Linked DNA regions of Homo sapiens. The main gene of each other region encodes a partner of the protein of the gene in region 3 in a complex. Each region holds a gene or a part of one and is shown on either strand. Other genes may lie near its edges. A codon is read from its position in the direction of its gene.

Region 1 (3,500 bases), on a different chromosome or scaffold from region 3:
CTAAGCTCTAAACCAGAAGGCTCCCATGAGATTTAGTATTAACAGCAGCAACATCATTAAACTCTTTCCCAATCTGGGTCATGAGGTCACAAGACAAACATCAATAAATTTCAAAGGCAAGATTATCAATAAGAGCCAGTTAGTTAACTGATAATAATTCCATCTTGCTCTCTACCTTAAGCAAAAAAAGTCATCTCTGGTTCTCCACAGGCACCAAATGTGACATTGAATTTATTTGGTTTCAGAGCCAATGCCCAGCTCCAAGTCTCACCACCCTCTTAACTCTACTTCATCTTTGTATCTCTCTCTCTCTTCTATATTCTCATGTGACTCAAACCAGGATTTGGAGCTACAGGGTGGTATGTGGTGGTGATGGTGGTGGGACAGGGGCAGAGAAAGGCAAAACCCTAAACTGACCATTTTGGGGGGTATTTTCAACTATACAATTTAAATTTGCAAGAGCTTGGAGGAAGATGGCATATAATCTGGCTCTATAATATGCACTTGATTGATTCTTGGAAAAATCATGAGACTTTTGCACTACCAGCATGGTAATTTGAAAAATAAGCCAGTTTCAAATAACAAAACAAGACAAACAAAGAAGCCTGCCTATGACTTGAAGCTGTGCAGAAAGGTGGCTCTGAGTTTTTAAGGGAGGAAAGTAAGGGGGAGCTACTCTCTGAAGTTGGTAGCTGACTAACCTCTACCACCGATTCCGCCACGACCCATAGCTCCACGCCCTAGGCCCCCTCTCCCAGGACCTCCACGACCTCGAACACCACCTCTTCTTAAGCCCATTCGGGGAGCTACGGCTCGTCCACCTCGGAGCAGGTTTTGACCTTAGAGAGGAGGCATACAATGTATATGCAGGTAAATCCAAGAGACACAAAGTAGATTCTAACCAAAGGAAGGCGGTGAGGGTTAAATGAAGGTAATTCAGTTAGTTTTTAGGTTGGCTGGGGCAAGCTGCATACTGTGAACAGATTAAGCTACTCTTTATTCAATCAATTCAACAAGTCTGACCACAAATCCATTTTTGGAAGTTGGGAGTTAATTCAATTAGTAAGTACATACATTTAATAAATATCTACTGAATAATCAGATAGATGCCTAGCATTATGGTAAATTTAAAAATAAATGCTATGGTTCCTGATCTCAACAGATTCTTCTAGGGAACAAGAACTATACAGGGAACAGAGTAATAGTGCCCCAAATGAACATATATAGGTAAGTGCTGTGGGTCAACTTGTCCTCTTTTTCCAGCTGTATCAGTGTTTTACTAGCACCAGGAACAAAGAGATATAGGCCAAAAGACCTATAAATTTCTTATGTTTGACTTGTTTCTAGAACTTGAATGTGCTTTGATTCAAGCAACAGCAGGGTGTTTTAAAATGGAATGGAGATGACATGAATTACCTGTTGTTACGCAGGTCATAGCCTCTCACCATTGCACATTATCAGAAAAGGAATGGTATTGATAAAAGACATGCAGCACTATTAAAAATATGTGATTTCAGAAGTTATTATATTAATACAAATTCAGGCTTAAAGATGTTAAACAAACGTGTCCATAAGCAGCCCAAGAGAAAAGGGAAGGGAGTAGGGCCCGACAATTATCAGGGTACACAGCACTGACCTCGGAGTGACATCCCGCCCCTAAGTAGGGTTCTGGTGGCACGTCCCCCACGTAGTCCTCCTCTGGGCAAGCCTCTCTGGATTATGGGTAGGCCTCGTCCTCCGATTGCTCCCCTGGCCAGGGCCCCTATGGGTCGGCCTAACCGTGCCTGGATGTTACTCTTACCCAGGCGCTGCTTTAAGCTCTTCTGGAAGAAAAGGTGTTAGGGGATTGAGATCAAAAAAGCAATCCAACAGGATTTGGCAACTCAAAGTGCAGAGAAAAAGAAGCAAGTGAGATGCTGGTGTGAAGGGAGATAAACCTGTTGTGGGTGTCAAAAGGATCCCAAACCAGAAGCAAGCCTTTGCCTCAGAACATGTTATACAAGCAGCAGAATTTTGATCCAGAGCAGAAACTCCAAGAAGCTCAAGTGTGGTCCCATGAAATGGGCATCTCCACAAATTACCTCACTAGTTTGGCTACAGAAGTCATACACTGCCAGTTGAAACTTAAGTTTTCGTAAGAACATTCTATAGTTCAATCCTGGATTGTACTGCTTTTGAACTACAGGTTGACAATTATATGACTTGATTCATACCTGCCCATGGACTACCACTGTCTTCAAAGGCTTACTCAAACACCATAGGAAGTTCATCACACTCTGGGCAAAACTTAAATTACAAGTTCACTTGAGTTCTTGTGACTTAAGAACAAGATTGATTTCTCAAAAAGGCCCGTGTGCTCCATTTTTCCTCTGAGAATCTATTTCCAGACGGTCCACTTTTTACCTTAAGATGTAAATAAACACAAGAAAGTCAAATCTCCTTTCCTTACATTTCTTAAAAATCCCTAATTCCATGCCTGCACTTGCAAACAGCTCCTTTAAAACAATGATGACCTTAAATTAAAAATAAACATGTAACTCAAATGTATCTCCACAGTCAGCCAGCCAAACGTATGTTAGAATTATTCAGGTGATCACAAAACTCAGGGCCATATATAAGAACAAGGACACACTACAGAGATAGGGTATTTTTAAGAATCTGTTCTCAAAAGAAAACCATTAAGACTACATCTCAGAGAATTAAATTCCTTCAAAGGAAAAAGGGACAGCAATAGCCCTGAACACAACCAAGCTCCTAGTAAGCCTGGCTGTCCATAAAGCCATCAGTCAATCTGAAAGAAAATAAATTGTATAGCCCCTTCAGGCTTCACCCACAAGTGACTACCAACGTGTATGTGTGTGTTTTCTAATCAACCTCTCAAAAAGATGCTGTGAAGCATTATTAACTTTCTAGCACAAGATCATAAATTGCTTCTCATCAGTGGGGAAGGCTCCAAACATTATGCATCTAGCATAAGTAGGTGTAACCAACCGTAACGGCCTGTCCTGTTACTCCCGATTAACACACAATTATCAGGTTAGAACTGCATTCCACAAGTCTCTTGCGTTCAGTTATCCTGCATATATTAATTCTCCCAAGCTTTGTGCTTTAAAAGAACTGTACAGTGCTGGGAAGTTCTTTACCCATTCCAATCCTTAAGTGCCACCAATACCGGCCTTTAATATTAACAGGGAAGTTAAGGATGTCAACTATACCACTTAGTTTCCCTTCTAGAGGTGTGCTGTGTAAGGCAGCCTCTATAGCTACATGTGGCTATTTCAATTATTTTTATTTTGAGATACAGTCTCGCTCTGTTGCCCAGGCTGAAGTGCAGTGACACGATCTTGGCTCACTGCAACCTTCGTCTCCCAGGTTCAAACAATTCTCCTGCCTCAGCCTCCCGAGTAGCTGGGATTACAGGAGCTGTCATCACGCCTGGCTTATTTTTGGTGGAGACGGGGTCTTGTCATGTTGGCCAGGCTGGTCTTGAACTCCTGACC
Region 2 (3,500 bases), on a different chromosome or scaffold from region 3:
ACTCTTACATGACTAAAATGGGAACGTACTGTTAATATAATTTTGTAACTTTTTTCATTAATATCTCTGATAAATATCTTTCAATATTATTTCAGCACAGTAGTCTGCTATACCATGGCACACATTTAATAACTAATTCTCTGTTGTACAGTTGGTTGTTTCCAGTTATTGATCACTATAAATAATGCTGTGATAATCCCTGAGGCTAAGTCTTTATGCACATTCAAGACTATTTCCTTATACGTTCCTAGAAGTAAAACTGTTAAGGTAGAAGATATTCTTTTCCCTTTTATCACTTATAATAGCCAGTATAACACTAGATAGTATGCAATAATTTTATGCAGTTGAGACCCCAGAATAAGTAAGCAAAGTACTAGAGAAACTTCTTTGAAGATGTTCAAGAAAAGACAGACAAATGTTGGCACTTCCTATCCTCTCATAACATTCAGTATCTCTCTTAATTGCCCAGGAAGGCCTAAGTATAATTTTACCTAAAGCAGGAGATGAATGTTACAATCTCTTAAAGAGTTTCTACAGCTAGCAAATTTACCTTATTTTGGAGAAATAAAACCTGTTATACCAGAAAAGAAAGAATAAAAAGGTAACTTTCTCAGAAGTATCTCTGTACTCTTACCTTTTGTTGGAACTGAAGAAATCCCAAACCTGAAGAAGGAAAAACAAACTAAATTTTAGGAAGCTGTTCACACTCCTGGTTTGTCTGTCTCCGTGTCAAGTATACATATGACACTTCTTGCTTGTGATCTCAAGCCTTGCAATCATTAGCTAATTCTAACAACCCCATGAAAGAGGTTCAGAAATTAAGCTAAAAGGAAGCCTTATCAGAATTAGTAGTAGTCAGTTCCTGGCTTTAACTGTTACAAAAACCCTTCTCAATAAAGCTCAATTTATAGCTACTATAACCAAATCAGTAGACATGTTCTGAATAGGGTCAAAAAAGTGTTCATATCCTTCAGCAAGCCTCTATTCTACTTAAAATCAACAATTATACCTAAAAGCTAGGATCACACATCTTCATCTTTACAACACCCCTATCAGAGGCCCAAAAGGCTGGGGACACTCACCTAGCTGCCCGAGCAGCTTTCTTACTCTCCAAGCTCACAGGTACATTGAATCGTTCAGCCCTCTTCTGCATTCTCTAAGTAAAAATAGACAAAAGGGAGAAAAAAAAGTCAATTTATGGTTTAAGAAAGTCAGTCAGAGGTAGGTATCTTTAAAAAAAAAAAAAAAAAAAAAAAAAAGAGTCTCACTCTGTCCCCCAGCCTGGAGTGCAGTGGCATGATCTCGGCTCACTGCAACCTCAGCCTCCTGGGTTCGAGCGATTCTCGTGGCTCAGCCTCCTGAGTAGCTGGGATTACAGGACTGTGCCACTGTGCCCAGCTAATTTTTGTGCTTTTAGTAGAAATGAGATTTCACCATGATGGCCAGGCTGATATTGAACTCCTGGCCTCAAGTGAACTGCCCACCTCAGCCTCCTAAACTGCTGGGATTACAAGCGTGAGCCACCTGGCCCAGCCAAAGGTAGGTATCTTAAAAACATCAGAAGTAATTTCTTAGGGTCTAAACTGAAAATACTGACAATCCTAGAAGATATCAGGTTGTGTCCATGCTAGGACTTAACGGCCCTTCCCACAAAGCAAACAAAAAAAGACTATTACTAGATGCCCTCAAAAACAAAAGGGAGAAATAAAGTAAAACCTACATTATGCATGAAGCCAAGAAGTCAAAAGCTATGTTTGGCTGACCTTTGAAAAGTGATCAAAGGAATAGCTTGGTTCCAACACCAATGGTATTCTTTCAGTTAGAAATGAGGCAGCATTGTTTTATGCCATTCTAAAAGAGTTTAATAATTCTCTACTTTGCAAGTATGATACTGAACACAAGATCTCAAATGGAACCTGGTTTCACAGTCCTGCACCACAGAAACCAGAGAAATTTCAATCTCAGCTACTGGCCAGTAGCAACATAAGAGTCACATCTACCAATACATTTTCAAGGTACAATCCTCCTAAATCTAATCCTAGGTTTGAAAACATCTCAAAGAGAGTCACTGTTAAGACCATAATATTACATATAAAAAGACTACAACTTCAAGAATGACTACCCCTACGCCAGCCAAATATTTTCCAAAGAGTAGCTGGCAGTGAAACGTATCAACACCAAAATCTGCCAATACTGATTTTCTGCCTGTGAATAAATTTTAGAGGATGATGCAGATATAATAAAGGGTAAGAGGGAGAGAGAAATGTAGAGACTGTTCTACTAGGGAGCAGAATACCTACCTCAGTCTGTGGTATTTCAGATGTAATTTTCACCACTTTCTTCTCTGCTGCCCTAGAAAAGAAAGAGATTTTTTAAAATGAGAAAACTGATATTCTAAACCACAACCTCAGAAATGTGTAAGAATTCACCTGAGTCACCATTCTCTGCCCTATTATCTCTCTGCCACCCCCTAAGCCAAAGAAACATGAAGTCCACTAGAGCTTTGGTTCCTTTAACTGTCATCTATTGAGAGGAAAGAGTTCAAATAACAAACTAAGCTTCTTTAGCTAAAGTATAATAAAGAAATAAGGAAAGAAGTCTGGTTAAATATACTGGGCTGAAGGGAAACACTCAAAGGACACCAGAAACCATCTCATTTGCTTTTAGGAACTTTTCAATTTACTTTTATTTTTCTGAGACGGAGTTTTGCTCTTGTCGCCCAGGCTGGAGTGCAATGGCACGATCTCAGCTCACTGCAACCTCCACCTCCTGGGTTCAAGAGATTCTCCTGCCTCAACCTCCTGAGTAGCTGGAATTACAGGCACCTGCCACCACGCCGAGCTAATTTTTGTATTTTTAGTAGAGATAGGGTTTCACCATGTTGGCCAGGCTAGTCACGAACTCCTGGCCTCAAGTGATCCACCCACCTCGGCCTCCCAAAGTACTGGGATTACAGGCATCAGCCACCGAGCCCAGCCTTTAATTTACTTTTGAACTAATGAGTAACCCTCCAATCCTCCTTTAAGTACCACCTCCCAATGTTCATCACAACAATTAATAAGTACTCTACAAGGTCTGGTTTCCTTCTTTTAAAAATCCCTTATTTCTCCCATGGGGAATGTAGCTCTAGCTGGAACAGTCAAAGTGAAACAAATAAAAATGCCAAAGAAGGTAGGAAGAAAAAAGTCTAAGGGGAGTTTGAATTAGGAAAACATGGTAAGCTAGTGGTCAAAGGTTTAAGAGGAAACAAAAGAGGGGGGACCACAGGGGCGGGAGACAAAGTTCGGAAGTACCCACGATAAATGGAAGGGCATTAACCCTCCACCAAACAACTCCCATAAAACTGTGGGTCATAACCAGTCTCATTAAGGTCCCTCATTTAGAGACATGGGCAGCTTTTGTTCCAATATCCTGAACACTTTTCCCATTTGATGCCCTGAAAGGTAGTAATGGTTTAATGACATTTTCAGAGGAAGCAATTCTGGAATAAGAACTTACTC
Region 3 (4,165 bases):
TTGCCTCAGCCTCCTTCACTGCCATCTTGCCCTCCAACCAGCCACCTGCTTACCCCAAAGTCGAACAGCTCCATCCTCGCCACCTGACAGCACCTCTGGGCTCCTTTCCCGCAGTGCCAGGCAGTGGATGTAGTCTGTGTGGCCCCGGAGGACCCTCTGCATGTAGAGGGGCGATGTCAGGAGGAGACCTAGGAAGAGTGCCTCTCCCTGACCTAGACCTGCTCTAGGGCTCCAGGACCCTGCTCACCGTGAAAGTCCCAGTTTCAAGGTCCATAGTGTGCAACTGACAGTCTCCCCCAGCCAGGATGAGGGAATTCTCCTGTGGAGGAGCAGGATGAGGCAGAAAGTCAATGTCAAATCAGGATAGGCAGAGGGTGAAGGATCAAAGTTTGGACCAAGAACAGTCACATGGGGCTCAGACCTTGGGGACCAGCAGCAAAGCGTTGATCTCAGGCACTTCCAGGCTGGTCCTGGGGAAGGAAAGGCAAGGTCAGTGAGGAAGTGGCTTCACCCTGATGCACCCTCTATCCACGTGGCCCTGCTCACCTGTATGGAGGCTGACGACGCCACAGCTCCTTACAGCCCTTCAAAAGAGAAAATACCAGGTGACCTCAAAGGCTCTCTCTGGGTCCAGGCACCCCAGCCCTTTCCCAAGCTCGACTCCTTACCTTCTTGAGCATCTCCGCCCAAAGCCAGGCCTTCACCTCCCCATCCCCAGCACTAAGCAGATGTCGATCGGTGGAAACCATGCTATAGACGGGCCCATCATGGGCTAAAGAGAAATGCAGAACTGAGTGAGCCAATCCCACCCAAAGTCCTGAAGCCAGACTCCACAGGTATACCCACCTTGGAAAGTCACCACCGGCTTCTTACTTTCCTCTTTGGCTTCTGAGCTCAAAGCAGAGGACAAGCTGCAGGGACAGCGGAGGGGACCCAGGAGTCAGAAACGGGGGCATCCGTCCCATGAGGGCCAAGTGCCAGGGCTAATGGGTGGACAGCGGCAGAGGGTACCTGAAGATGGCAATCTGCCCGTAATTGTTGCCAGCCGCCAGAAACTTCCCACATGGTGAGACGCTCTGGGAGAAGATGGTCATATGGAGCCGCTGCAAGGCCTGGAACACCTCTGTCTGCAGGGAAAGACTGGATGAGGCCTGCCTGGGACGTATGAAACCTCCCATCCACAGATTCCTCCCTGCTTCCCCCAAAACCTGCCAGGCCTCCCACTGTCCTGACTTCTCAGCCTTCTTTTGAGGCGGCCCCGCCCCAAGCCAGCACCTGCCCATGCAGTCCCATGGGTGGCTCCAAGAAGACACTGAAGAAGGGGAGAGTTGAGGTGATGCCTCAGGGACCTCTGAGCAAGCACCCAGGCCTCTCCTGCCAGCTTCCTCAACTGACAAATGGAGCTCACAGAAGATTCCATCACAATTAGATGAGCTAGTGTATAGACAAGAGCTTTACATGGGGCTGTCACTCAGTGCTTAAGCCGGGTGTGGTGGTTCATGCCTGTAATCCAGCGCTCTGGGAGGCCAGGAGTTTGAGAGCAGCCTGGGCAACATAGTGAGACTCTGTCTCAAAAAAAATTTAAAAATGTGGGGCCGGGCGCAGTGGCTCACGCCTGTAATCCCAGCACTTTGGCAGGCCAAGGCAGGTGGACCACCTGAGGTCAGGAGTTCAAGACCAGCCTGACCAACATGGAGAAACCCTGTCTCTGCTAAAAATGCAAAATTAGCTGGGAGTGGTGGCGCATGCCTGTAATCTCAGCTACTCAGGAGGCTGAGGCAGGAGAATTGCTTGAATCTGGGAGGCGGAGGTTGCGGTGAACCCAGATGGAGCCACTGCACTCCAGCTTGGGCAACAAGAGTGAAATTCCATCTCAAAAAAAAAAAAAAAAAAAAAATTTGGCCGGGCGTGGTGGCTCACACCTGTAATCCTAGCACTTTGAGAAGCCAAGGCAGGCAGATTACCTGAGGTCAGGAGTTCGAGACCAGCCTGGTCAACATGGTGAAACCCTGTCTCTACTAAAAACACGAAAATTAGCTGGGCATGGTGGCACACGCCTATAGTCCCAGCTACTTGGAGGGCTGAGGCAGGAGAATCGCTTGAACCTGGGAGGCGGAGGTTGCAGTGAGCTGAGATCGCGCCACTGCACTCTAGCCTAGGTGACAGAGTGAGACTCTGTCTCAAAAAAAAAAAAAAAGTGCTTTGCAAGAACTAGAAAATTAAAAAAAAAAAAAAAGTACCTCTACTACCCCAACATAGAAAAACGTACTGATTTATAATTCCTACTCTCTGACTTGCGTTAAGCCCCTGAAGCACTTCTGGGTTACTATCCCGCCCCCCTGGTCAGAGTCTGAGTCCCACAAATAGCCCAGGCAAAACAGGGCTCAGGGCACGATTCCCTGCCCGCCCCGTCCCAGCCATGCGTGAACTACAAACCCCAGAAGGCAACGCGCACCACGTCCGTCTCACCTGACCCAGAGGCACCGCGAGCGGCACAGCTCGCTCCATCTCCAGAACTACAAGTCCCAGAGTGCTCCGCGCGCGACGCAACCTCACGAGGCCTTACGTGCCTAGAGCGGTTCCTCTCCGTGGCGCCCTACCGCCTTCGGCGCGAAGGTGGCTGGTGCGTACCGTCCCGAACCCTAGGAGCCGAGGTGAGCGCCGCGAAGACCCCCGACATTAAGAAGTGGTGTCCACCGCAGCCCCCTTAAGCCGGATACCCTCCCCCACCCCGAGGAGCAAGCCTGCCTTCCGCCACGCGCCGCCCGTCTTCCGCGCCCGCGCAGAACCTCGCGGCTGTGCCCGCCTAAAGCCACGCCCATCCTCTCTTGGCCACGCCCTCAGAGACTCCTCCCCTGTCGCCCAGATCCCACCCGCAGGACCCCAAAACCCAATGATCCTGCAGCAGCCCTTGCAGCGAGGCCCCCAGGGAGGGGCCCAGCGCCTCCCGCGGGCCGCCTTGGGGGTGACTTGGGGCCTGGACGCCAGGTGCGTGTAGGGGACCAGGGTGGGCCTGACCAAGGGCCGCAGGAGCTTTGGCTGGGTGCTCAGGACTGGTCTGCAGGATGAATACGGGGTGGGGCGAATCGGCGGGGCTTAGGCGTGAGCTGAGATGGGACTGGGGCTGCGGCTGAGGGTCGAGACTTCCGAGGTACCCTGCTGGATGGTCCAGGAGAGCGGGGACCGGCACCAGCTGAGACAGGAATGGGCTTGGGGCTCCTGGCTGATGCTGCAGGCTTAGGCGGGCAGATCCTTGGGAAGGGGCCAAGAGGGTGGGGTGCACCAGGCTCTCTTTTTTTCCCAGCTCCCCTCTCCGAGGAGCTGTGCCCATGAGCACCAAGCGGCGCCTGGAGGAGGAGCAGTGAGTTTGGGGGCAGGGAGGGACTCCCAACAAGATCTCTGTCACCTCTGGTCCCCAACAGGCTGCCTCCTGTGTCAGTATCCCAGCCTGCCTCTCTGCCATCTCTCCCCAGGGAGCCTCTGCGCAAGCAGTTTCTGTCTGAGGAGAACATGGCCACCCACTTCTCTCAACTCAGCCTGCACAATGACCACCCCTACTGCAGCCCCCCCATGACCTTCTCCCCAGCCCTGCCCCCACTCAGGTAGGTTCCTCCACTGGCCAGGCCTTCTGCAGAATCACAGGCGGTCCTCACAGCTGACCTCAGGCCCTGCCTCATCGTGCCATTTTTAGCTCTAGCTGACCTCTGGGTTGTTTCCCATCTTGGCTCTTTGGAAAGTGCTGGGAACCCAGGAGCCCCTGGGGACCTGGACCTGGTGGGAGGTGCTCAGCTAGGCCAGCCTCAGCTCCATGCCCTGACAGTCATTTCCTCTTCTAGGAGCCCTTGCTCTGAGCTGCTTCTCTGGCGCTATCCTGGCAGCCTCATCCCTGAGGCCCTCCGTCTGCTGAGGCTGGGGGACACCCCCAGTCCCCCCTACCCTGCAACCCCAGCTGGGGACATAATGGAGCTCTGAGTGCTGGTGGACAGTGCCCCTCCCACCTTCCTTCTTCCCCACAACAGAAGAGACCAGCGACTCCCGCAAAGGGACAAGGTTCCTCCCTCTCCTGCAGAGTAGGCATCTGGGCACCAAGACCTTCCCTCAACAGAGGACACTGAGCCCAACGGAGTTCTGGGATGGGAGGGGTGGGAGCATGGGAAGGGAGGCA
Region 4 (3,218 bases), on a different chromosome or scaffold from region 3:
ATTAAAGGTGTGAGCCACCATGCCTGGCCTACGCAAAACAATCTTAACAAACTATTTACTTCAAACACTCTTCACTTTATCAATACATCTTTTTCTATTGAAAATGATTCCTAAAGAACAAAACAGTAGAGAAAACAGATCAACAAAACATTTGAGAACCATATTCCTCTCATATTAAGGAGAGATATATAAAGTAATGTGCACTATTTTACTTTGCATCTTATAATTAACGTCCCATACCAGCGAATTTTAACAGCCTGGAACCTCTCTCCACAATAAGCATACACCACTAACATTTTGCATGTAATTTCACAGGTTCATGGTCCTCCTAAAGCCTCTTCATAGACTCCGTTTTCAGAAGTGTAACCATTTCCAGAAATTGGCTCATTTTCCCATGTACATCCTAGAAATGCCAACTTCTAACAATTTTCAACTTATTTTGTAAGCCAATCAATGTTACCAGTTAAAAACTACCTAGAATATTAATGAGCACAAACATATGCAGCTTAAAAGCATTTTATTAAGCATTTTTGGATGTTGCTTCCTACCACTTAAGAATAAAAAATGCATTTTAATAAAAACAAATCTATACTGAAGTCATTTTCCTTTGTGAGAGGAAATATGAATGAAATACATTCATACTTAAAAACAGAGTATTTTACTGCCAAAACTTTAAATATCTCAAGAGCATACCACATTTTAAACACATTATGGTCATGTAGCTATTTCAATATTCCTGGGAGTGGTGGGCAATTAGCCTGTCTATGGCTTAGGATCTGTTTCCATGCTTGCTTCCTGAGCTTCTTCTACCTCTGAGAGTTTTTCATCATCTGTAATTGAGAAGGAAACATAAAACCTTAGTCAAGTTTGCCTATATTTTATATTCGATGAACACATGAAAACATGTTTATCCTTTATTAGCCAATACAATTAAAGCTAAGATGGCTACTAGTTGAATCAAACTTTAAAATTTATGTGATAGACTTCACTTAAAAAAAAAAAAATCCAGGCAGGGTCTGGTGGCTCATGCCTATAATCCCAGCACTTTGGGAGGCCAAGGCAGGTGGATCACCTGAGGTCAGGAATTCAAGACCAGCCTGGCCTACATGGTAAAACCCCGTCTCTACTAAAAATACTAAAATTAGCTGGGTGTGGTGGCATGCACCTGTAATTCCAGCTACTAGGGAGGCTGAGGCAGGAGAATCACTTGAGCCTGCAAGGTGAGGATTGCAGTGAGCCAAGATTGTGCCACTGCACTCCAGCCTGGGTGACAGAGCAAGACTGTCTTAAAAAAAAAAAAAAGAAAAGAAAAAATGGGTCTTAGGCTATTCTTTAAAACAATCAGAAGATCAGGTAACACAAAAATTTCCACTTGCCTATAGTGAATATAAAGAGCAAGTCTCCAGTTCCCCAAAGCACCCACTACTCAGTGGGTATGCAAATGTTCGTATGTACTGATTTCTTATTATTGCCTGCCTGGGTCCTGAGTTGTTATATTATAGTAGTCAACTACAGTGAACCAAGAAAGATTCCAAATCTATCATCCTTGAATTTTTCTTAATTTAAACCACTATGTATATGTTTAAATCCTATATTACTACAAATTAAGACTTTTCTACATGTATTCAAGAAAGTTGAACATGAGTACCTTCTAACGTCATCCAGCTACACTGTTCAGAAATTGAAGGTATACTGTCTCTCCAAGATGTATATTTCAAAAGGTACATCCCTGGGTCATTTAAAAAATCTTCATAAGCATTTACTTTGAGACTATTTCTACTTACTTTCCAATGTTTGCTGAAGTTCATGGATGGTACTAAGAAGAACATGAAACTGTTTCCGTCTCAATTCCAGCTGTGTTAACAAGAAAAAAATTTATACAAATGACCTGTATATATAGATATATAGACAGACAGATAGACAGATCATGAAGGCTAAATATATATGCGAATACCTTATCTTCAACACTTTCTTTAATGTGTGAAAGATGCTCTAATTCTTTTCCCAGAGCCTCTAGTTCCCTGGAAATAATAAAACAGTGTTACATTTTGCTGAATGGGGGAGAAGAGTTTACAATTAATGCCTAACTTTTAAGTTACTAGATAGGATTTTTAAAATAAAAAAAGGGCTTATAAGGAGTTATAACACTCCATTATGGTGAAACTTTTAAAGCTGAGGATGATTTCTTCTTAACTTCTAAATATGGACTCACTTTCATTAAAATTACATTTTTGGATCCATTTTTAAAGTACAGAAAAATACAGATAACAGAATAACAAGACCCAAGAAATGATACATATTGTGAAGTTTAACTTCGAGGGTTTTTTATTTTGGTAAAAGAAATAAAACATTGCCAATTAACTCGAAATACCCTTTGAATCTTACGCCTAGTCCTCTATCCTGGGCCTTTTTATCTCCTCTACCTCCCACTCAGGCAACTACTATATCATTCTTATTCTTTTTTATGCATATACTTGTATCCCTGAATAATACACAGTATTGGTATATAATATTTGAAAGGGGGTTCTAACTTTTATAAATGGTTATTATTCTGTATGTGTTTCAGGAATTTAAATATAATTTAAAGTTTATTATGTGTCTTTTCACTGATTATGTTTTGAGAGCTGTGTTTTAAAAGGGCATAACTAGTTTATTCTTTTTAACTGAAATTCAATATTTTAATATATGAAGACCATATTCTATTTATCCATTGTGATATTGATGCATATTATATGCATTTATTTTAGACATATAGCTGGTAAGGTTAGAGGAAAATAAAATCTAACAGAGAAGTATGGGAAAATATAATATTGAATATCTGACCCCTCCTTTTGAAACATATTTATTTCTGCAAAAATGAAATGCCTACGGTAGTTTTCGAGCATTTATGTATAAAGGTTAGTTCCTTTCAAAGTAAAGCTCTACACTTACTTTAATGTCTCATGCCTGTCTGGATGGTGCTGAATCACTTTTGCCAAAGCATCATATTCTGTAAGACATAAAAATATTTATCAAACTAAGGATTTTTTGAATGTGAATTATCAAAACAAAATGTGTAATATCACAAACCTCTCCTAATCACTTTCCTAGTACATCAAGAAATGAAATCACTGAAAGATGAGTATTGCCAGTTTTAGTTAACTGAGTTATAATTATAACGATACATAACATCAAAAGTGTTCCAAACAGGGGTTTTAGCTCCCACTTTTTTTCCATTT
Region 5 (4,123 bases), on a different chromosome or scaffold from region 3:
CTGGGTTCACGCCATTCTCTCGCCTCAGCCTCCCGAGTAGCTGGGACTACAGGCGCCTGCCACCACACCAGGCTAATTTTTTTGTATTTTTAGTAGAGACGGGGTTTCACCGTGTTAGCCAGGATGGTCTCGATCTCCTGACCTCGTGATCCGCCCGCCTCGGCCTCCCAAAGTGCTGGGATTACAGGCGTGAGCCACCGTGCCCGGCCAAGCCAAGATTTTAAACCCAGATTTGACCCCAAAGCCCCCTTTTCTCTTACACCAGCATTTCTCAACTCCAGCCATTCGCATGCCAACATCACAATTTTTGTCCTATCCATTAAACACTATACTTTTCTTTATTCAAGATTTTTCTTAAAATTGATTCAAAAAAGTTTACTTAAATAAATTTAGCAGCCAGCTGTGGAGGCTCAAGCCTGTAATTCCAGCACTTTGGGAGGCCAAGGTAGGCAGATCACTTGAGTCCAGGAGTTCAAGATCAGCCTGGGCAATATGGCAAAACCCGTCTCTACAAAAAATTAGCCAGGCATGGTGGCATGTGCCTGTAGTCCCAGCTACTCAGGAGGTTGAGGTGAGAGGATGGCTTGAGCCCAGGTGGAGGCTGCAGGGAGCCAATATTGTGCCACTGTACTCCATCCTGGGTAACAGGGCAAGACCCTGTCTCAAAAATAAAAATAAAATAAAATAAATAAAAATAAAATAAATTTAGCTTCAACTGAATAATAAATTCTATGTGCTAGTTCTTCTAGTAGACATTAAGATATTTGCAAAACTGGTTTTTAATGTTCACCCACGCATCACCTGAATCACTCATGGATCAGCAGCTGTATACTTGGGGAAAAACCACACCATTCCGCCTCCAGAGATAAGTCTTGTCAACAAAGTCCAGTGGCCCACACTGAACACATCAATTAAAAATCTCACCAACTTTTTCCATTCTAAAACGCATATTTTCTCACATTTTAGTATCTACACTGTATCTTAAAATGTATCAGAAAGCATTTCAAAATTTTGGGTGTATCACAGTTATTTACCAACTTTCTTTCCTAATGGAACATCTTACGATCAATGAAAACTCAGAGTCCCATACAATATCGGCCTCAATACTTACAACAGAGCCTATAAATGTACTGCACAACTTTCTCCCAGATCACCAAGACCATCCAAGTTTCAACCATTCTAACTCATCAGAATTTTCCAAATTCTCCATGCCTTTGCACATGCCGTTCCCTCCTGGAAATGTCCCATTCCCCACCCACAGCACCCTGACCACTCAACTCCTATGGCTACCCTAAAAGTTTGCTCAAATTTGGTGAGGCCTTCCCTGGCTCCCCTAGGCAGACTTTTGTTTTCATTTCTATTCTGGGTATCCACCTTGCAGACCTCTCCATTATAAAATGAACCATATCTTGCTATGTTATTTGTATATATATGTCTTCTCCCCGCAGGGGAGGTCCTTGGAGCTGGAAACTCTTATTCAGCTCAGGATGTCTCATACACAGCTGAGTGCCAAGCACAGAAAAGATATTCGGAAAATGGTTGTTGAATGAATCCAAACAGCTTATCTTCCTATTGCCCTCTCTCTGAATAGTCACCTTTAGTGTTCACAGTGGCAATGCATTTTGTAGTCCTCACATCCCAGATGCGAATGGTTTTATCTCCGGACGCCGTAACAAATAGGTCAGGATTACTTGGATGCCAACAAAGCTGGTCCACACTATCCCCATGTCCCCGATAATTGTTTTCTTTGACCTGAAAGAACAGAATCCAGATGTGACTTCACATAGATGTAACTGCCTCCGCATGTAACTTTATAAGCTTATTCAAACCAAAGTATGCTGGGACCAGTAAAGATCTGGGTAATTCAGAATCCAGTTCCTCCAAGCCCTTTCTCCCTTCTCTTCTCCGCAGGCCTTCTGAACTGTTTTTCTCAGCTTCCACACCTATGCCCTTACTTTTGTGCCCTCCCTGGCCTTCTCCTCCTTCCTGGTTTTCCACCCTTACTCTACCACCAACGTACCACCAACGTACCACCACCAACGTACCACCACCACCACCACCACCACCACCACAGCCCCTAGCCACTTCTTATCAGCACAGGATTCGACTCCAAACCAGTAAGGCTCCCATCGCAGCCCTGTCCCATCCACCCTCTCCTCACCTTCACCCGCCATCGCCAACCTCCTTACTTCCACACTCTTCACACGCCCCCAGTCTTCCTCTCCTCACCCCTCACGACCCCGTCACCCCCACACTCCACCTTCTCCCTACTCCCTCCTCATCTCCACACTCCCCCTTTCCCCTTCCCTCAAACCCACTCTCCTTTCACCCCCGCGGCTCCGTTCGCCCCCATTCGCTCTCCCACTACCGCACCTCACTTCACCACGGCCCCTCTCCCTAGCCTGAGCCGAGCCCCGGCAGCTCACCAACCGGTCCTTCTCCAGCAAGAAGACGCTGGCCGTCTTGTCGAAGGACCCCGAGGCTAGGCGACGCCCGTCGCAACTCCAGGCCACCGAGTGCACCTTGGCGCTGTGCGCCAGGAACTCGCGCGTCTTGCTGTGGCCCCGGAACAGCTCCTGCATCCCAAGCACGTAGCGCGACGGGCCGCTGCTCACTGAGCACCACGGGGCCATCGAGCCGGGGCCGCTCTGGCCCAACGCCGAGGGCCCCATGGCTGCAGCGGGGACCGCCATGCCGAGCTCCCCAGCTTCCAACTCACAACACTGCAGCAGCCTCCACGGCGCAGTCAGTCCTGGCGCCGCTGCCGCACGCATGCGCCCGGAAGAGCGACGGCCCCTCTGCGCAGGCGCGCTGTACCCCGCCCCGGAAGGGACTACAAATCCCGGTATGCAGCGCGTGCCCGCGTCTGCTTACTTAGTAATATTTGGTTCTTTTAACTCCAAATATGCTTCACACTTAACGATTCCGAGTTTTTTTAGTGTTCTTATTTCTCCCTTACCTATTCTTTGGTAGATATATGTGTATTCCTGTTTAATCGAATAAAAGAACCAACACTAACCTTCTAAACAGTTAACTCATCACCTTTCTTCTGGGGTTGTTCCGTAATCCCTAGTCCCCTCCCTTAAGAGCAGAAAGCTCTGGTCTTTTTGCTGGAGAAGGACCAGCTGGTGAGCTTGTCCCATGAAAAGGGCTAGCGGGTGTGGAGTGAGGGAAGAGGTGTTAAGAAGGGGTCTGGAGGTTTTGTTTTTTTTTTTTAAATAAAAATGGATTTTTTGTTTTTAAAAGGTAATGGCAGAGGCGTGTGAACCAGAGCAACTCTATCTTAAATAGGAACTGGGTAAAATGAGGCTTAAACCTACTGGGCTGCATTCCCAGACTGTTAAGGCATTCTAATCACAGGATGAAATAGGAGGTCAGCACAAAATACAGGTCATAAAGACCTTGATGATAAAACAGGTTGCAGTAAAGGAACCGGCCAAAACCCACCAAAACCAAAATGGCGATGAGAGTGACCTCTGGTCATCCTCACCTCTACACTCCCACCAGTGCCAGGACAGTTTGTAAATGCCATGGCAATGTCAGGAAGTTACCCTATACGGTCTAAAAAAGGGAGGCATGAATAATCCACCACTTGTTTAGCATATCATCAGGAAAAACCATAAAAATGCGCAACCAGCGGCCCTCGGGGCTGCTCTGTCTATGGAGTGGCCATTCTTTTATTCCCTTTACTTTCTTAATAAACTTGCTTTCACTTTGCACTGCGGACTTGCCCTGAATTCTTTCCTGAGTGAGATCCAAGAACCCACTCCTGGGGTCTGGATTGGGACCCTTTTCCTGTAACAGTATTACATGCACATGATTGTAAATATAAAAATAAAAGATATAGAGTGAAAAGTAAATGTCCACCTGCGTATCCACCCCACCTCTCATATCTCCCTTAAACCAGTGGCTTCTTGCTGGAGAAAAAAGGGGTGGTGAGCTGCCAGCGCCAGTCAAGGCCCTGGAGAAGAGCTGAGGGGGGAAGGTTTTGGTGGTGAGTAGTAGTGGTAAATGTGTTTAAAAACCCAATTTTTAAAAGGCAACACGTGCACTTGGTAACAAATGTAAAATGTATAAAAGGGAATAGATTGAAAAGCTTCCCTCCATCCTGTGTCCCCAAACT
Region 6 (3,500 bases), on a different chromosome or scaffold from region 3:
TACTATTTGTAGAGACGGGCGTCTCCCTATGTTACCCAGGCTGGTCTTGAAGTCCTGGGCTCAAGCAATGCTCCTGCCTCAGCCTCCCAAAGTACTGGGATTATGGGCATGAGCCACTGCCCTGCACCCAGTCAGAAATGCTTCTCTTGAATAAGCAGTTATTAGAGGAATTAAACATTCAAGAACCCTAACATGCCCCCAAACATCGTTTCAAGACTTTTAACAACTTCCTAAAATCCTTCAAGGACTTTTGGAGACAAGATCTCACTCTGTTGCCCAAGCTGGAGCACAGTAGTGCAATCATAGTTCACTGCAGCCTCAATTTCCTGGGCTCAAGCTATCCTCTCACCTCAGCCACCAGAGTATCTGGGACTACAGGCATACACCACCACACCTGGCTAATTTTTTTCTTCTTTGGTAGTGATGAAGTTTCGCCATGTTGCCCCGACTGGTCTCAAACTCCTGGACTCAAGTGATCCACCTCCCTCAGCCTCCCCAAGTGCTGGGATTACACACATAAGCCACCGTGCCTGGCCAAGGATCTTAATTTTTGAAGTTTATTTTCCTTGAGGTTATTGAGGACATACCCGTGCCAGCCATAGAATAGAAAAGCAGCTCCCACCTTACTCATGCTCAGCCCCTAAGATATTTATACCCTCATTATTCTCTCCCACATCACACATGTGATTTCCTCAATAAAAGTGTACTTAATATCCAGGTTTCTGCTACAGCTGGAGTGCTCCAATGCTCATCCCCCTACTGGACGTCTAACTGACCTGGTTGAACTCAAGGACATCCAGAAGGTCAAAGAGCTTCCGGTTCTTCTCGTTGTCCTTCAGTTTCACGTAGTACTGCTGCAACCCATGCAGCGTCAACTTCGTCTCATCATCCACGAAGATCTCCATTGGCTGGGGGGGAGGAAGGGGGTGGGGAACGGGAGGAGGGCAGAGTGGGGGGGTTAAACCTGGGGGGGTGGAGGAAGTTGATCTCCAATACACCCCATGGGGGGATGGGGAGGAAAGAGAAGATTGAAAACCCCACCCCACTCCCAAAAATACCCACATTTTACTGTGGTCTCTCTCACATTACATCTAATTTCCTTCCTATCAGATGAGTTTTAAGACTGCCCAACTAAAAACTATCATGGGAAAGAAACTGCAAATGAAGTCAAGGAGCAGTGAAACCACCCAATGGCACAGATGCCATTACCTCAAATAGAGGTGGGAGAGGAAAGAAAATGGGAGATGATTCTCAAAGGGAGAGCAAGGACCAAACATCTGGGAAATGATGGGAGGCAGTGACTCAAGGTCAGAATAACTCCATCAGAGGTGCTTCTAAGAACATGGGGTGGGGGGAGGACAACTGCTCCATTTGATTCTCCTACTTCAACTAAGAGAATCTCGTGTGCATTAGCAAAGTGGATGTCTTTTAAGATCAGAATGCTGCAATGGACAGTCAAAATGCCACTTAAGGAGAAACAAAAATTACTCAAGATGAGTTACTTGCCGTCAGACCACAACAGGATAGTTTTAGATGAGACTGGTCTCTTGACTAAGAATTAAACCATCTACAGGTTTACAGGAAAGGTATCAGTAAGTGGTGTTAAAATACCAAATTCAGAGCAGCAGATACACTTTTAAGGGACAGGATCTCACCATGTTGCCCAGGCTGGAGTGCAGTGGCTATTCACTGGCACAATCATAGCACACTATAGCCTCAAATTCCTGGGCTCAAGTGATCCTCCTGCTTCAGTCTCCTGAATAGCTGGGACTACAGGCACACACCATTATACCTCACTGCATTCATCTTTAAAATTAAAAAACCCCCTGAAGGGGAGGAAAGTAACAAAGACAGAAATTACCACAACTCCAAAGCCCAACTTTCCTAACACTTTTTATACTATCCTGGGGGAAGATAGTTAATATGAAGACCCAGAGGACAAAATAGGAAAGGATGCGTGTGTCATGGGAAAAAAACCAGAAGCCCAATCCCAGAAGGCAGGTTTTGTTTTTTGTTTTGTTTTGATACAGGGTCTCTCTCTATCACCCAGGCTGGAGTACAGTGGCACAATTACAGCTTACTGCCACCTCCACGTCCCGGGCTCAAGCAAACCCTCCTGCCTCAGCTTCCCAAGTAGCTGGGACTACAGGCATGCGCCACCACGCCCGGTTTTTCTGGTAGAGACAAAGTCTCACTACACTGCCCCAGCTAGTCTCAAATTCCTGGGCTCAAGCAATCCTCCCACCTTGGCCTCCCAAAGTGCTGGGATTAGAGGTGAGCCACCAGGCCCAGCCAAGGCAGGCTTTCTAAAGAGAAGTTCCATGGCCTCCTTCAAATCTCATTCTAGCCCCAAATACAGCTAAAGAGTGATCATCCCACGGGAAGGAACACTGCAGGGAGGGGAAGAACACACTCCACTGCTTATGCAATTGGCCCCACCTAGCCCCAAACCCTAACAACCACCCGATTACATCCACTTTACCTTTCCTATGTCCCTCTCCTCTGAGTATTAAAAAAAACAAAAAAATTTTTTTAAGAAAAAAAATCTACCACCCCATTCAGGACACCCCTCCCCAACACATATTGGGGGAAACGGGGCACGGCACGCGTTGGGTTCAGGAAAAAAACCGGGAACGGAAAAAGAGGCTGGTTTGGTCCTCAGCTTCCTGGTCAGGTTTCCCCGCGGCCTCCGCTGCCGCCATCCACCGCTGGGTGCCGTCTGCATTCCCTCGCCGCGCCACGGTGCTTCTCTGTTGCCGGCTCACATCAACCGAGGTTCCAGATGGGTGCAAGGAGATGTGGGTGGGAAGGAGTAGGGTATCGGGGATTGAGGTGCCAAAGGCCCCCACCCCTGGAGGTGGGGAAGGGGAGGATTCATTTGTGCTGATGCTCTTCTTTTGGACATGCCCTGCCATCTGTCTGTCCCTCTCTTGCTCTCCTGCCACCGGGAAGTAGGAGTTTTGGTGAGCAGAAGGCTCCAGCTGTACGCTCGATGCCACCTTGAGGGTGCGTGGCTGTAGGGTGCATGTAAGAGACGATGGATGGGTGGGTGGTAGGGCAGAAAAATCCTGCCCTCCCCCAAAGGGAGAAGAGGTTCAAAAATGTTGTGATTTATGAAAAAGTCGAACACTACCCGCTCTCACATTAACCCGACCAAGTCTTCCGGAGTTTCCCTGGCACCCGCGCAGGCCCTAACACTAGCTGTCTCTGCTTCTGTATGTCTCTTCAAGGAGTCATTACTCCCAGTTGGGCACAAGCCGCCTTCTTGGCACTTGAATGACAAGGGAGTCTGAGGAAGAGGGCGAGGAAGGGGAGGAGGCAGCGGGCGGGGAGTGGAGGGAGAGAAGGTAGAAGGGTATTTACATCTTGCATGAACTTGCGGCAGACTGGACGGATCTCTTTGCTCAAGGTAGCACTGAACATCATGACCTGCTTCTCGTGGGGGGTCATGCGAAAAATTTCCTGGACATCCCGACGCATGTCTACAAGAACAAGGAAAA

What was found.
Region 1: THOC6 (region 3) and CHTOP share a complex: the UniProt entries of both Homo sapiens proteins name them as parts of the transcription/export (TREX) complex.
Region 2: THOC6 (region 3) and SARNP share a complex: the UniProt entries of both Homo sapiens proteins name them as parts of the transcription/export (TREX) complex.
Region 4: the proteins of THOC6 (region 3) and THOC7 are in contact, whole or in part, in a cryo-EM structure (PDB 7APK), measured with the Homo sapiens proteins. Residues at the interface, in NP_001334633.1 of Homo sapiens: Asp229, Trp232, His245, Thr252, Gln268, Asp269, Gln284, Leu285, Ser286; in NP_079351.2 of Homo sapiens: Lys110, Arg113, Lys114, Gln117, Glu118, Ala121 (codon at 2,981), Leu122 (codon at 2,978), Val125 (codon at 2,969).
Region 5: THOC6 (region 3) and THOC3 share a complex: the UniProt entries of both Homo sapiens proteins name them as parts of the transcription/export (TREX) complex.
Region 6: THOC6 (region 3) and DDX39B share a complex: the UniProt entries of both Homo sapiens proteins name them as parts of the transcription/export (TREX) complex.

Annotation. Positions count from the first base shown.
Region 1 is NC_000001.11:153,640,566-153,644,065, reverse strand, and holds part of CHTOP (chromatin target of PRMT1 protein), read right to left. Parts: intron 1,824-3,500; coding exon of another isoform or gene 1,821-1,823; coding exon 1,637-1,820; intron 840-1,636; coding exon 702-839; intron 1-701. UniProt on the Homo sapiens protein: Plays an important role in the ligand-dependent activation of estrogen receptor target genes. May play a role in the silencing of fetal globin genes.
Region 2 is NC_000012.12:55,793,725-55,797,224, forward strand, and holds part of SARNP (SAP domain-containing ribonucleoprotein), read right to left. Parts: intron 2,353-3,500; coding exon 2,301-2,352; intron 1,157-2,300; coding exon 1,083-1,156; intron 664-1,082; coding exon 635-663; intron 1-634. UniProt on the Homo sapiens protein: Binds both single-stranded and double-stranded DNA with higher affinity for the single-stranded form. Specifically binds to scaffold/matrix attachment region DNA. Also binds single-stranded RNA. Enhances RNA unwinding activity of DDX39A.
Region 3 is NC_000016.10:3,022,670-3,026,834, reverse strand, and holds the start of THOC6 (THO complex subunit 6), read right to left. Parts: upstream 2,801-4,165; 5' UTR 2,509-2,800; coding exon 2,470-2,508; intron 1,128-2,469; coding exon 1,012-1,127; intron 912-1,011; coding exon 847-911; intron 773-846; coding exon 669-772; intron 585-668; coding exon 547-584; intron 471-546; coding exon 422-470; intron 320-421; coding exon 248-319; intron 157-247; coding exon 54-156; intron 1-53. Other genes in the region: HCFC1R1 (host cell factor C1 regulator 1), read left to right, coding at 2,894-2,988, 3,305-3,361, 3,474-3,602, 3,837-3,972. UniProt on the Homo sapiens protein: Component of the THO subcomplex of the TREX complex which is thought to couple mRNA transcription, processing and nuclear export, and which specifically associates with spliced mRNA and not with unspliced pre-mRNA.
Region 4 is NC_000003.12:63,833,370-63,836,587, forward strand, and holds the end of THOC7 (THO complex subunit 7), read right to left. Parts: intron 2,990-3,218; coding exon 2,932-2,989; intron 2,022-2,931; coding exon 1,955-2,021; intron 1,855-1,954; coding exon 1,785-1,854; intron 831-1,784; coding exon 763-830; 3' UTR 501-762; downstream 1-500. UniProt on the Homo sapiens protein: Component of the THO subcomplex of the TREX complex which is thought to couple mRNA transcription, processing and nuclear export, and which specifically associates with spliced mRNA and not with unspliced pre-mRNA.
Region 5 is NC_000005.10:175,965,516-175,969,638, forward strand, and holds the start of THOC3 (THO complex subunit 3), read right to left. Parts: upstream 2,801-4,123; 5' UTR 2,694-2,800; coding exon 2,427-2,693; intron 1,753-2,426; coding exon 1,596-1,752; intron 1-1,595. UniProt on the Homo sapiens protein: Component of the THO subcomplex of the TREX complex which is thought to couple mRNA transcription, processing and nuclear export, and which specifically associates with spliced mRNA and not with unspliced pre-mRNA.
Region 6 is NC_000006.12:31,532,004-31,535,503, forward strand, and holds part of DDX39B (spliceosome RNA helicase DDX39B), read right to left. Parts: intron 3,483-3,500; coding exon 3,364-3,482; intron 909-3,363; coding exon 777-908; intron 1-776. UniProt on the Homo sapiens protein: Involved in nuclear export of spliced and unspliced mRNA. Component of the TREX complex which is thought to couple mRNA transcription, processing and nuclear export, and specifically associates with spliced mRNA and not with unspliced pre-mRNA.